Linked DNA regions of Homo sapiens. Each later gene encodes a partner of the first gene's protein in a complex. Each region holds a gene or a part of one and is shown in the gene's direction. Other genes may lie near its edges.

The links. The genes of interacting proteins can lie anywhere in the genome.
Region 2: ELAVL4 (region 1) and IGF2BP1 share a complex: the UniProt entries of both Homo sapiens proteins name them as parts of the TAU mRNP complex.

The regions. Positions count from the first base shown.
Region 1 is NC_000001.11:50,111,870-50,119,007, forward strand, and holds part of ELAVL4 (ELAV-like protein 4), read left to right. Parts: intron 1-7,138. UniProt on the Homo sapiens protein: RNA-binding protein that is involved in the post-transcriptional regulation of mRNAs. Plays a role in the regulation of mRNA stability, alternative splicing and translation.
Region 2 is NC_000017.11:49,000,385-49,007,384, forward strand, and holds part of IGF2BP1 (insulin-like growth factor 2 mRNA-binding protein 1), read left to right. Parts: exon of another isoform or gene 1-4,422; intron 4,423-7,000. UniProt on the Homo sapiens protein: RNA-binding factor that recruits target transcripts to cytoplasmic protein-RNA complexes (mRNPs). This transcript 'caging' into mRNPs allows mRNA transport and transient storage.

The DNA.
Region 1 (7,138 bases):
GGTGAACAGGAGATAGCGTAAAAACAATTGAAATGGTGATCTGTTAGGGTTTTTTACTAAAGGACAAAATAGATGCATGATCAGGGAGCTAATTGTAAGCCCAAAAATGAGAGATTTAAAAATGCTGAAATACACTAAAAGATTAGGAAATATAATTGGCTTTATTGAAAGTACACTTAATTTTTGCTCTCTTCATTGCAAATCCCCCCAATTCTTTTTTCCTTGCAGATGCGTCTTTTTGTTTTCTCTTCTTATTAGGGGATTTAAAAATTTTATTTTCACTCTTGAGGTAAAAATAAATAAACTTGTATTTTTTGTCATACACTTGAAACTTGCGGCCATATGTTGAGTGCATAAGCCTGTGTCACCTTTAAAAAAATAGAATTTTTTTAAGTCTCCAATATAGTTTCTTTTTTTATTTTCTGAGAATTTTCTGGCAATTTTTAGTTAGGGGAAAATAATTTCTGTAAGAAGTGTCATCTTGGCTTGGGTTGTAAAAAAGACACGTGGTTCTGATGCTGACCTTTCTCGATCCTTTGTCTTAAAAATATTAATGCCTACTACCTTCATGTGGAGTTGTGCTCTTATGGAAGCACAAGGCTGAATGTGCATTTATTAAGAAGTGAAAATCCAATTGGAAATATTTCTGCAAAAAACATCTGACTAAGTAGCAGTTTTAATGATCAGAATGTCCATATATCTCATAGTAACATAACAGCTAAATCATTTAATATTTAAATTTTTGAAAGGGTAAAATTAACATAGATGAGGAAGTAGCTGAAAAATTACTTTGAGAATTGTTGATTTACAAGACAATTTAATATCTCATTTTTTAAAAAGCTAACAAACAACTTAACCATTCATTTGTGATCTCAGTCCCATTCATTTTTACCTGCCATTCATTCAAGTCATTCTCCTGGCCAGATGTAGATGGCCTTGCTTCTGTTTGATGGTTTGCACAAAACCTTAAAACTTTTTCTCTCCCAATACTCCTTCCTTGGTCCTTTGAAAATTAGGGTGTTGTTATGAGAGGAAGGCCAGATTGTTGTGAGATAATAACAATAGAATATTTAGAAAGAGAGAGAGAGAAAGAAAATGAACTGCGCATTTGCCTTTTAGTTCTAAACTTAGTCTTGAAATTGGATTTGGGACACTTTGGACTTCAGATATTTTAAACTTAGGATTTCTATTAGGTATAAGCTATTTGAAATTTCACATCTAGAAATTATTGTTTGAATGGTGCTTTGTATGTGTGTGTTCAATATCTCTAAAAGGACTTGTGGATGAATTGAGATGTTTTTCTCAAGTTAGAGTTACTGTGAACAACAATGGGATTTCCTCAGAGTAAGTCTTTTTTTTTTTGGTTTGATTTCTTCCCTTTACACTTATTTCCTTATTATAGGTGGGTTCTTTTCCTATATGTAGGCCAAATACTATTTCTTCCATGAGGAGATATGCTGCTTCATTTAGCCCTGAGCATCTTAACACCTTATTTTAATTTTTTTAAAAAAAGAAACAAATTGTCTGTATGTACCTCAAGTAAGAAATGGTTGTCTTCATAGAGGTCATCATACATAGACGAAAGTACTTTGGCCTTGACAAATTTCTTCATTAGCTCCAATGATCTGTGGCCACCAGGCAGTTAATTTATATGCCTAGACATTTAATATGTACATTTGTTGGTGAGCTGGCCAGAGGATGCTAAACACACGAGTATGCGCTGGCAAATGCTGCAATGCAGTATTTTTTTCCCAATGTCATTGGGAATTTTGGGGCTAGGAAGGGACATGAACATTTTCAAGCTTTTATCTTACTATTGTCCAGTCGATGGGCCATGTTGTACAGATTTGGTCAATTCTCCTTTTGAAAGTAAAGTCAACCTTTTATTTACCACTATCCATTCCCCCATCCATGTAATGTATATGTGGAAAGTGTGTGTGTGCGAGAAAGAGAAGCAGAGAGACTCTGTGTGTATCAGTATAAGTGTGTTGCAGATTCCTGCACCTGTCTTAGGCTTTCCTTATTTGGTATTACTAAACATGTATACACACTTACTTGCAAGTATATGTGCATCTATAAATGGAGAGAAAACCAAACTGGGCTGCTTCCCATAAGAACTGGTTTCTCTTCATGACTCCAAGAGTTCTCATATTAGAAAAATATGAAATTTCAAATATTCATTAAAAAATATATATTCAGACCCTGCAGTCTGTTAGTAACCAAACACCTTTCTTTAGCTGCCACTTAAGAAATTATAAGTGTGCAAATGCATAACAATGTTTGTGAGCTAAAAGCCATCCCTTCAATCAAGGGCCTGGGTATGAATTAAAATGTGTGTATGTGAGTGTATATGGATATGTGTATATGTATGGGGGGCGGTGGGCAGGATGTTTTTCTTTGAGGGCATTTGAACCTAGTCTTTACCATTGGTAAAAATAAGGAGGCGGTAAGATGGAAGTGTTAACATCTGTGCTTTGCTTTGTAAGTTGGTGTGCAAGTGTGTGTGTATTAGGAACATCCTTATATTTGTGAAATCTCCACGTATTTTAGGGGTAAAGGGCTTTTATAGGTCACTGGCTTTCTAAGGGTAAAAAAAAAAGAAAAGGTGATCTGTGGGTGGGTGGGAGTCACAAGCAGTAATTGTCTTAAATTAGCTATTTAGCAGTGAAAAGGAAAAAAAGGCTGGAAGACAAGAGTGTAGAAGAGTACCAACATGTGGGTCTGCATCTTTCCGGTATAGGAGATAATGAGTGATAAATTTGAACTGGTGCAGTGCAAGATGCCCGATAATTTCTCTGAACCTTGACTTTGCAGGTCCATTACTTCCTTGCTTGCTTGTTCACACCTTTAATTATATCCAGTTTGGGATGCTAGCTGGGGGCACCACAGATAAGCCATTTTGTTTGTTGTTTACTTCATTAAGTATTCAGGCAGTGTATTCACAGTAGCTTTGGAGCATCAGTGTTAGGAATTGAGCAGTTTGGAAATGGAATTGTTAAAAAAGAACAAAAAAATAAGACAGCAATCAGCCAGCTAGCTTGCTTTGGATGTTCACATCCACTCTGCTTAATGGTAATATTTATGCTTTCCCTTGCACATTAATTAAGAAATAACTTACGCAGTGTCAGGGCTCTTAATAGGCTGGTGACTTTCTCTCTCTTTCTCTGTCTCTGTCTCCGTCTCTCTGTCTCTCTCTCTCTCTCTGTCTCTCACTCTAGCTCCAGCTGTCTCTTTCTCTCCACCCCACCCTTGAGACTGTCTTTGCTCAGAACATTTTAAGACCAACCAATTTTGCTTTAGGGGAGCTCATATTCAGATCCTTGTTGTATCTAATACCAAAGGTATTTCTCCCCTCAATAAAGATCCCCCTCTACAAGGATCAAGAAATGCTGAGAGCCCTAAAGGAATCCTTAAATAAATTTTGGTTGAGAAAGCAGTAGAAGTGTTGAGGAAATAAGGTCAGTGTAATTTTTGTGCTTGCGTTTTTGTTTTTTGTTGTTTTTGGAAAGTCTTATTTTTAACCCCAAAAGTAAAATGCAAAACTAGCATATGGGATTTTTTTAATGAAAAAAATATATATGTCTTAGGTCTCTCCTGAAAATAACCTCCCTTGGACTCTTCATTTGAAAAATAACATGTAAACTTTAGCTTAATTTTTGAATTACTCATTTTAAACTATAAAATATAGTTCATAAATATTTTTTCCATAGGAAGTTTAGTTCTTTTTTCAGGCTATGGGGAAGCAGAGAAATGACCCAGCGAAGATGGTGAATTCTGAAAAAAACACAGCATGGAGGTTTCCTCTGTTTGCACTTCGTAGCATTGAATCTTCTCCTGCTTCTATGAGTTATCCTTTAGCCCTTAAAGTTGTTTTGCCAACAGTGTTCATAATAGAGACTGACTGTCATTCCTTGTTGGGTGAAGATGTATTTGTTGAGGACTTACTATGTGCATTTCTTTGGAACGTGGAATCCAAGGTCACCATTTCTTTTTCTTTTGACAATGATCAGAAGACATAATTAATTAGAGGATAAGTCCCTGTGATTGGAGATGAAGTTAGGGTGAGGGATTTTTAAGGTGGCACATTGCACAATGAGGTTTGTGTCAAATAGTAAGAAAAGGTCTGCTGGAACATTCAAGTACATAAATGTCTTTCCTTCTGTATTTATAAGCATCTAGGTGTGACTCCAAAAGATAGAAATAAGAGATCTTTTGGACATTTTAGTCTATAAGGTTTCATGTGTCCACATCTTCAGCCTCAGGAAGAAATATAGAAGTTTGGACTGTTGAAAGGAACTTGTCTTTCAGTCAGCAGCCCATGAAGCTTGGCTGAAACTGGTTAATTTTACAGAAACACGAATGTCTTGCCTCCTTGCTTCTGATGTAAGTGGCTTTTTGAATTCCTTTTCCTCTGTTACCTCCCAGGAGCATCTGAACAGATAGTGACCGTTTTGGCATGCCAAATTGGAAGTTTGCTAGTGGAGCAGAAATCATAGTTACTTTGTCATATACATCTAAATACTGTGGTGTGTGTGTGTGTGTGCGTGTGTGTGTGTGTGTGTGTGTGTGTCATGTGTTGTAGACAGCTGGGAGCCCCGGTGTGCCGTGGGATGTGCCAATAATGGCTTCTAAAGTACTCTGTGTTTTCCTAAGCTGCCAGTCTAAACCCTTTAAAGGTTTGCTTTCTAATTTGTACATGAAAAATAACAGGCTGAGTTGAACTTTTTTTTTCAAGTGCCCCCTTTGAAGATGCAGCAGTAGTAAATACTGCTCTAATGATAAACTTTAGTTCTAAGTGCTACTTAAAAGTCTGTAGTAGAAAGGCTGAGAACTTGCCATCTTTACTAATGAAGCTTTCCTTAGGAAAATGCTCACTTAAAAGGGAGTAAATGACCAAGTCCCTGAAATTTGTGATTTTTACCAGATTTGACTTATCTTTTCTTATTTTACTTTTTGTAATGCAGCCAACCACACATCCAAAATTCTTGGTATTATACATGTCTTCAACATTAATTATCTCTGTTGATGCACTGGGTACAGATAGTACAGTTCCCACAAGTCCAGATTCTTACTGTAACACCAAAACAAAAGTGATATTTATGAATAATATTGGGAAAGTTGTCCTCATAGTAACCATTCCCCAAAGGAAGCTTTACATAAATGTGCACTTATTATTCAGGATATTAAAAGGGAATCGTTAGCTTTTACTTTTTAATTTGGGCTAAAATATGTAAATTGGTTTTATTTTGGAGTTTCTCTGTTTTAGGTGACTTTGGGGGAGGATAACTTTCTAGCTTGATTATATTTTAATCACCTCTCTAGTGGAAAAGTTAATCTTAAAAGCAACCTGCTTATTGTGATTAGGACCCAGAGGGCCTGTGTTCAGATGGGGCTAAAAACATATTATATTGACCTGTACACACGTAGAAAAATTAGATTTATTTCTACTAGATACCGCTATTACCATGCCTTTGTTGGCAAGGCTATCTCAGAGACCAGAGAACCGTGAGTCTGCCTCTGGCCTCCGAGGAACATCACGGTGTGCCTGTACAGGCAAGCCTCTAAAAAGATTGTTCTTTGTCTTAAGAAACTGGCAAGTGCAAAGGACTTCAGAGTCAGTTGAACTTAAGTTGGAATCCTAGCTCTTCCAGTTACTAACTGGGCAATCACAGATGAGTTACTTCAACATGAGCCACAATTCCTCATCTTTAAATGGTGATGACAATATCTAACTCACAGGGTTTCTGCAAGAATCAGATGAGAAACAGTATTTGAAGGCACCAGTCATACATAGGACTTGAAAATTGAAGGTGCTTTGAGGGTGTTAAGTCTCTTTCAGTCTGTCAGTCTTTCTGTCCCTTGGCAAAAGCCCTTCCCCAGAAAGAGGCCCATCTGCCCATGCCAGATGTCCTGGGCAGTGACATTGTATGCTACCCTCACTGTCTCCATACTGTCCCCAGCATGCAAGAAGGGTGGCACACAGTGTTGTTGTTTTTTTCTATATAGACAAGCCCTCAGTTCTTCCTCGGAATTGTATGGCTTTATTAAGTTTTCTGCATCCTCCTAGGATTTCACAAGCTGTATCCATGATCTCCTTTGGAATTAGAATTCACTTGGGATTTAGTTGTCAAAAGAGAAAAACGATGAAGATAAAATTAATTTTAACCAGTGCTGTTTTTTTAATTTCATGAAAGAGCCTGTTAGGAAAGTTAAAAGTCAGCCAGAAAGAAAATAAAAATAGGCTGAGCTTAATTGATATGGTCCCATCTTTGCTGTCTGTATATTGTAACTTGCAAATTATTTGACTTTTTCCCAGAAACCAACTTACTTCAGATCTATTTTTTTTCCTTTTCACTGTATCAGCTGTTTTCCTCCTTTCCCCTTGTTTTCCCAATAGGCTGAACTTTGAAGTTCTGTTTCTCACGGAATGGTGAAGAGGTTGAGGCAAAAAGTGGCTTAATGAGATTTTTGTAACTTGCCATCAGTTTTCCTTCTGCTTGGCAAGGCAGCATGATGGATGGCTTTGGCAGTGTGAACACCTCTAGAAGTGATCAGATTGACTGAAGAGATGTGCAGGATGTCAGCAGAATGCTGACCCTCAATTCATTACCCTCCCATTTGAAGGAAAAAAAAAGAGAGAGAGAGAAAAGAGGAAAACAACCACAAAAGCCTTGGCGTAGTTGTTGATTACACACACTTGGGAAGGGGTAATGGGTCGCGTCAGGACTGGTGTTAGGTTAAACCTAATTTTGTACCTTTTCCCCAAGGGTCTGAAGGGGGAAATAAATAAATAGGCACCATAAATTAATTCACAAATTGTTCTAAATGGGGACCTGTTGCTGTGACCTGTTGCCGTTATGAAGAAATAATACAAATTGTCCTGAAGGGATTCAAGATTCAAATTGAAAACACAATCTTGAAACACCGATTTTGAATTCTACTTCATATGCTTACAGGAAGGATATAAAGGGAAGTCGATTTTTTTCTTCAATGTAATCCTTAAAGTAGGGGAAGGGGTTATTAGTTGATCTGATATCCCAAATGCCATTTTGCAGGTCCTATGCTAAAAAAAGAAAGAGAGAGAGAGAGAGAGAGGGAGGGAGGGAGGGAGGGAGAGAGAGAGAGAGACAGAGAGAAA
Region 2 (7,000 bases), on another chromosome or scaffold:
GGAACTATTGTGTCTATAGATCAATATGGCTTGTTACTATGTTTATAGAGCTTGCGATTTAACTTCACATGTTTGAAATACCGTGTTATTGGAAAGGCAATTAGAGTTAGGAGTAAAGAGGCAATAAAATGGGAAGGAAGAAAAGAAGTCTTATTTGTTATTTTGAAACATTTTCTGGAGATGTGTCTAAGGAACATACACTGACACCAGCAGGTTTATTGAAAAGGATATGGATATTTGAACTGAAAGCTGAGTGTTGATGAAAAATATCCAGAATAAGTGGAATTCTAAAATATGTGGATTTTTTCTTTTGCTCTTGAGGATGGTTTAAATTTTAGGGAATAAAGTGAAAAGCAAGAGAAATAGCAAAACGTGATGAAATGGAACTCAAAACATTTATATTTTAATTTTCATGGTGCCCTGTATTTATGAATCTTTTTCCCCAAGCCATCTGCTTGCTTTTAAGTCATTTCTAGGCCCTTTTTCCCTCCAAAATGCATTACTGAGGGCTCTTTTTTGAGTTGGAATGGAGAGGGGGTTTGTGAGAAGACTGGGTAAAAAAAAAAAATCTGTCCACACCCATATTAAATTAGATCTTTTATGTGTTCTCCCCTTCCTGAAATAATTTTTTTAGCCCAAACATTGAGTCAGTTGTGTTTTCTTTGCTTTTTATTTTGGTTGGTGGTGAGAAGGCACTTCATTTTTCTAGAATGAATCAATTTTTGAAGTCTCAAGATTTAAAAAAGAAAGTTTGTTTTCATTAAGTCAGTTTGCTCTATCATTTTGTGTCTTTGAGGAAGTATGTTGTGGTATGTGTCTTTAGTCTGTGTCTGAAAAGTATTTCGTCAGTTAGGTTTGTTACTGACTTTCCATCTCATGGATGTATAGAACAGGAACTAGTTAATTATGACTAATATATTCTAAGCAAAATGAACAACTATACAAATAATATTTTGTGTATATATACTCTTGTATTTTCCTTATGAACTCTTCTTGAGGCATTCAGTTCCAAATGAACTATGATTTCAATTTCTAAAATAATTCATAAAAACCCAACAACTAAATGTTCCTGGTTGTTTTGTTTTGTTTTTTAAGAGGGGGAAATCAAACAAAAGATATGCTGTAGCAATACCTCTTAATGTATTTTGTTCTTAGTTTGAATTTATTTGATACATATAATTTGTACCTTTTTAAGAACTCAAGAGGCCGAACACTATGCATTTCAACTGAAAACAGCAGTTAGCTTGAATTTTTAAAATGAGGTGATACTAATTTCTTAGAGATCACCATCTCAAACCCCCTTAGTGTTGGAATTTGGTTAACAATTTGTGCTTTTTTGTTGAGAATTTGTATATGTTCACTGCCAGATACTGAGACAAAAGAGAAAAACCAAATGCATTTAAAAACAGTTGTGGAAAGGGCTTGTATATGTTTTATTCTGAGAGACTTAGGAGTAGTTGAGGTAAAGGGGGTACCATTTTAGTGTGACTTGATTACTTTGAGACATGATTTGCTTTTTAAGGGAATTAAACCTTTGTTACACTTGCCACTGTGGTGTGCCTTTTTCTAGAGGAATGTGACCTAAAGATAGCATATTCACTGTCAACTGGTGTCATCAAAATAAAAGGTGTTACTGTTAATTAAGAAAAAAATGAAAGAGATGCACTGACTCATTTTTTTTAAAGGTGAAATGTGTTCACATTAAAGAATTCTAAGTTTGGTGATTTCTTTAGGCAGATTAATGGTCCTTTTCCTCTATGTTGACTAAAAATGAGGTGGGCTAACTCCCTTAAGTACCTATTAAACAAAATTAGTTTTATAAATCGTTCATAAAATTGAGAACTCCCAAAAGAAAGTGTCCAAATTTTACAGTTTAATTTTTTGAAGTTAACAGCTTTAAAAATCTGTGAAGGGATGTCTTATAAATGGCAAAAAATATTTTAAATATATTTTAACAATGATTTGTTGAGGCTCTGAAGAAATCACTTGGATCACTAAATGTTTTCAAAACAACCTAAAAATTGTCTTCAGAAATGGATTTGCACTTAAGGAAAAAAGAAAACCTACCTTGTACTTTGGGGCTGAAAATGAATGAAGAGGGGTTAAAAAGGGAATGAAAACTACTAGAGCGGGAGGGTTTTCAGGCACTTTTACTTTAATGGTTGTAATTATGAATTAGTATCCAAGTCAAAAAGAAAGTTTTTAACTCATACGAGGTAAAAGATAACATGTGACTACTATTCAACATGGAAGTTTAAAGTAGAAACAATTGATTACTCTTTTAAAAAGGTTTTCTTATTAATATTAGGTTAGAATTTTTTTTTTTTTTTTGCTTTACATAAGTGAAAAAAATGGTTGAATGTTAAGTTTTTGTGCACTGTTTGGAGGAAAGGTGGAAACTGGGGTACATTCTTTCCCTATTTTAATTTCCACCTAAAAATTAAACTTTGCAAATTCATAAATTAGTTTCCTTCACTGCTGGTAGAAATCCTTAACTGTTCTCATTTGGGTGGTCAGTATTTCAAGATGAGAGTTTTGTAAGGGCAGTGGCAACTGACTGTCCCTTAGAAGAATTGTAGGTTTCTAGAACCCCTTATTTTCTGACCCAAATTAAAAAGATGAAATTTTACCATAATGGTTTCTCAGATGGAGAACTTTTTAGTAAAAAGGGGGAAGAACTGCAAGTCCCATCACTAATTTATTCAAAGTATTGTTAATTGTTGAAAAGGTAAAGTTTTAATGGCACAGCTTTTGGTGGAAAAAAACATAATTATGTTTCAGAGATTAAATACATGACATTAGCAATTGGAAGAACCTTGATTCAAAGGTTCTGAGCTTCTAATCTTTTAAAATTACCTTAATATGTATCATTTTAATCTATGTGTGTGGGTACTTTTAAGGCTTACTTTTTAAGAGTGTATTTATACTATACTTTAATGTGTAGCAGCCAGTTGACAAAGATACTATTGAGGTAGTCTACTGAGTATACAATTTTAAAACATTTTAAAATTCAGATCTGGTTTAGTTGAGTGAGAAGTGGGGAACAGCAAGTGCTATTTGTTGAAGTTTAAAGGTTTTGTGAAGAGTTATTTAGTGGTTAGATCTGTTGATTTTTGTGTGTGGGGTGGTAGTGGTGGTGATGGGGTTGTTAGAATAAGTTTATGAACCAAAGGCATTTGAAGAACGGACATTTTCCCAGCTGTTAGAATTTAAAATAAGTGTGGTTCGTTCCCTATCCTCTTAAAAGATTCTTGAAATGTGGCTAATGTTTTCCAGAAAGTGCAGCTTAGAATTTGGGATGGGAGTGTTAGGGAGAGAAAAGGGGAGGAAAAAAGCAGCAGGGGGAGACTGGAGAAATCAGACGAGTTAGTCCCGGCTTGGAAATTCCAGACGGGGAGGGGGGAGGGAGAGAGGGAGGGAGGGGAGATACGGGGTTGGGTGGATTTCCCGCTTCCCTTTTAAAGGGGAGCGGCTGGAGTCTCACAGTGTTACCCACGGGAGAGGGGTCGGAGACGGGTGGTAGACTCAGCTCAGGGCAAGGCTATATTTGCTTTTGGAGTTGCCGGCCTTCCCTTCCCCTTTCAAAAAAGAGAGAGAGTAGAGAGAGAGAAAGTGGCGGCGGCGCTGCAGGCTCTTCCTGGAGCGCTCGCCCCGGCCCGGCGGCCCTAACCTTCCCCGCCCGCCCCCGCGCCAGTCCCAGCCCGGCAATCTCGTCTCGCTCTGAGGTGGGGCCGCCCGCCTGCCTTCTCTTAACAAGCCCCTGACAGAGAACATCCGCTGGCCTGGGTCTCCGAGGAGGACTTCCCCTCTCAGATCCCTGAGACCCCAGGAGATCCCAGGCCGCTTGTGGTGCGCCTTAGTCCTGGGAACCCCAGATCGCAAACCTCGCAGCAGATACCCCACGAGAGGGTTCCCCCTCACCGGCTGCGGGCTGCGGGCTGCAGACCCTTTCCAGCACCTGGGCTGCCTCAGGAGCTCTCCATTCTAAGGCAAAAAGCCAGTGGGTAAATGTGAAGTGAAAAGAGGCAAGAAGAGAGGAAGAGTAGGTAAAGGGAAAATAGGATGAGACAGTTGGAGAGAAAATGGAAGTGCAAGTAGCTGTTCCTCTCTCCCAGTAGCTGGGGTCTTGGCCTGAGAAATAGAACCTTAAAGAGTTAAGTGTCAATTTAAGTAACCTGCAATCTTTACAAAATGAGCTGTTTGTGTCTGTCCACAGGTCCTGAAGGCTGACCGAAACAATAACAGAGGCAGTAATAGTAGTCAGAGGTTCTATCCATGGATTTTGTTTATCTTGTAAAAGAGAGACAACAGGCCTTCCAGTTGTCCAGGGTCTCAGCCAGTCTTCGACTCCATGTTAGTGTAAAACTTCTGCACCCCATCCATTTCCACCTTTCCTCTCCTCCCCTATACCTTTTTAAATGCCTGTCAAAACAAAAAGCAGAAGGAAAGGTCTCTCAAACCTGTACTCAAGAAAGTGTATGCCCATTTGGTTACCGATAGTTTGGTTAAAAATGATCCTGTAAGATACCACCTGACACACACCATCGCAAGGGCAAGGAGGCAATGCCAGCAGGAAGCTACGTAGTCCCCAGGTAGTGACTTCATTCTACTAGGAGAACTTGGATGGCCCTTCAGATTTTGATCAGAGGAGACTATGTACTTATTACTGGATAGAAGGGGGGTCATCCTACTATTAAAATTTATTGCAGAGCCTGCTTTGTAAGACCTGCTTACTACCTTGCAGCACAGTAGGTTTGCAATAATACAACAGGCTGGAACAAACTTTTGCTCTAACCATAGTTGACTGACAAAATATATGTTGATTACAGGTAAGTCACAGAAAAGTAGGTTTGGACCTCATACTTTTAATACAGTTGGAAAAAACCTGATTGCAACACACTGAAATGTAACTGTGTGCAGAACAAACACCATCAGAAATGCAGTCCTTTTGCATTTTGGGAAATCCAGGTTCCCAGGAGCATGGCTGGTCGTAAGCAAACTGCTTTTGACTGAAATAGAGAGCAAACAGCTCGATGATTAAGAGAAGTTTTGAGTGGATTGTGCAGATATTTTCAAGACCCCTTAGGACAAGTCTGGTTATTAGACAAGTGGCATTTTGGTGGCTGGAAGGCATGTAAGGGATGGTGTCTGATATGGGATGGCTGGAAATTTTGCTTATAGTTTAGAGGAGGGTTGTGGAGAAAAATCCCATAATAGAGGAGGCAGGAGAAGAGGGGAAGCTCTACATTTTCTCTTTCCCTTTCTACCATGTCTGGTTAGTGGATTCTAGTCAATCCTCTCTACATTTCCTTATGAAAAGAAGGTTAAGGAGAACTTCAAATTTTTTTTTTTTCATTTTGAGTTAATTTTGGTTAAAAACTCAATCACTCATTCAGGACAGGCACGGTGGCTCACATCTGCAATCCTAGCACTTCTGGAGGCCGAATAGGGCAGATTACATGAGGCCAGGAGTTCAAGACCAGCTTGGCCGACATGGTGAAACCCTGCCTGTACTAAAAATACAAAAATTAGCCAGGTGTGGTGGTGCATGCCTGTAGTCCCAGCTACTCGGGAGGCTGAGGCCAGAGAATTGCTTAAATCTGAGAGGTGGAGGTTGCAGTGAGCCGAGATCGCACCACTGCACTCCAGCTTGGGTAACAGCGAGACTGTGTCTCAAACAAAAACAAAAACCAACTCAATCACTCATTTGGATGTTTTGGCCACTTGAAATGGAAAATGTTAAGTCTGAGTGAAATTTGATTGGATAGTTTAGTTTAGTTGATTGGATATAGTTAGGATCTTTAAGGGGAGAAATCAGAGAATTCAGAAATATGTGTGTAATGGTTGTTTGTGTGGTCTGACCTCTTTGGCAAAGAGGAACAAGGAGGAAAGGAATCATTCAAAATTCTTAAGGCTCCAGGAGGGAAGAAGTGCTGTTAGGTCAGAGTCTTAATGACCTACCCTAGGTCTCTCACTCATCCTTTACTGGGGTCTGGAGGAAAGGTCTTCCTCCCAGGAGAATTCAGTGTTTAAAAGCTTGAGCTCAATTTCCGTAACTGTAAAGAAGTGGTCCTAATAGTAGTACACAATAGCTCTTATTGTTATTATTTTGTTGTAGATATTGACTTCTGTCCCTCCTGCCCTAGCCATTGTTTGTCCTCCTTTGAAGCTTTACAGTTGTATCCTACCCTGCCCCATATAGCTGTGGTTAGCTCCATGAGTATTAGAACTGATCAAGTGTACAGATGCCTGAAAATGTGTCCATGAGAGGTTGTCTTTGAACTGTGTGTGTGTCAGCTTGGGCTATATATCTAAGGCACTAGGAACAGTGATGGCTAGGCATGTTGAAGGGGATCTGTGCGTAGGGTGCTTTGGTAACTCTACCTGTATGTTGAAAGGAAAAGCCACCTTTTAGTGGAGAGAGATGAAGCTCACCAGGGCAACCCCACAGAGCCCCTAGATTATAGATTCCCCCAGTACATTCTCTGAGACAGAGGCTTGGAGAGATGAGGCGAGCATGGTGGATAATGCTATTAATTGTTCTTTAGGGGAAACAGGCCATTTATTCTGTTATCGTTTATGCCCTGAACTTGGTCCAGGTTCCTAGCTGAAATTTCACACTTTACGGCTACTGTCAAAGGTGTACATGTAGAGTAGGGACATTGGTGAGAGGGGAACTAACTCTGCATATAAGGTAGGTGTTGTAAGAATTCAGGATGAAGGGGACTGTAAGAATCCTCCTGGGGGTCTGAGGAAGGAAGAAATGAGAGTGACCTCCCCCATCTGCTGGGATGGGTATGTTCATTTTCATGTCCTGCTCTTGGTAAGCTAACAAAGTAGGCATTCAGGAACTGGGGATCCCTAGATACCCAGGGGGTGACTGCACACATTGTTCCCTACTTCTTCTGCTTCTGTAGTGTCCTCACATTCTCCCCCTGGTTCCCTGGTCTGGAACCAGTTCCCAGAGATGCACTCAGAACCCACCTTTATGCCCACTTCT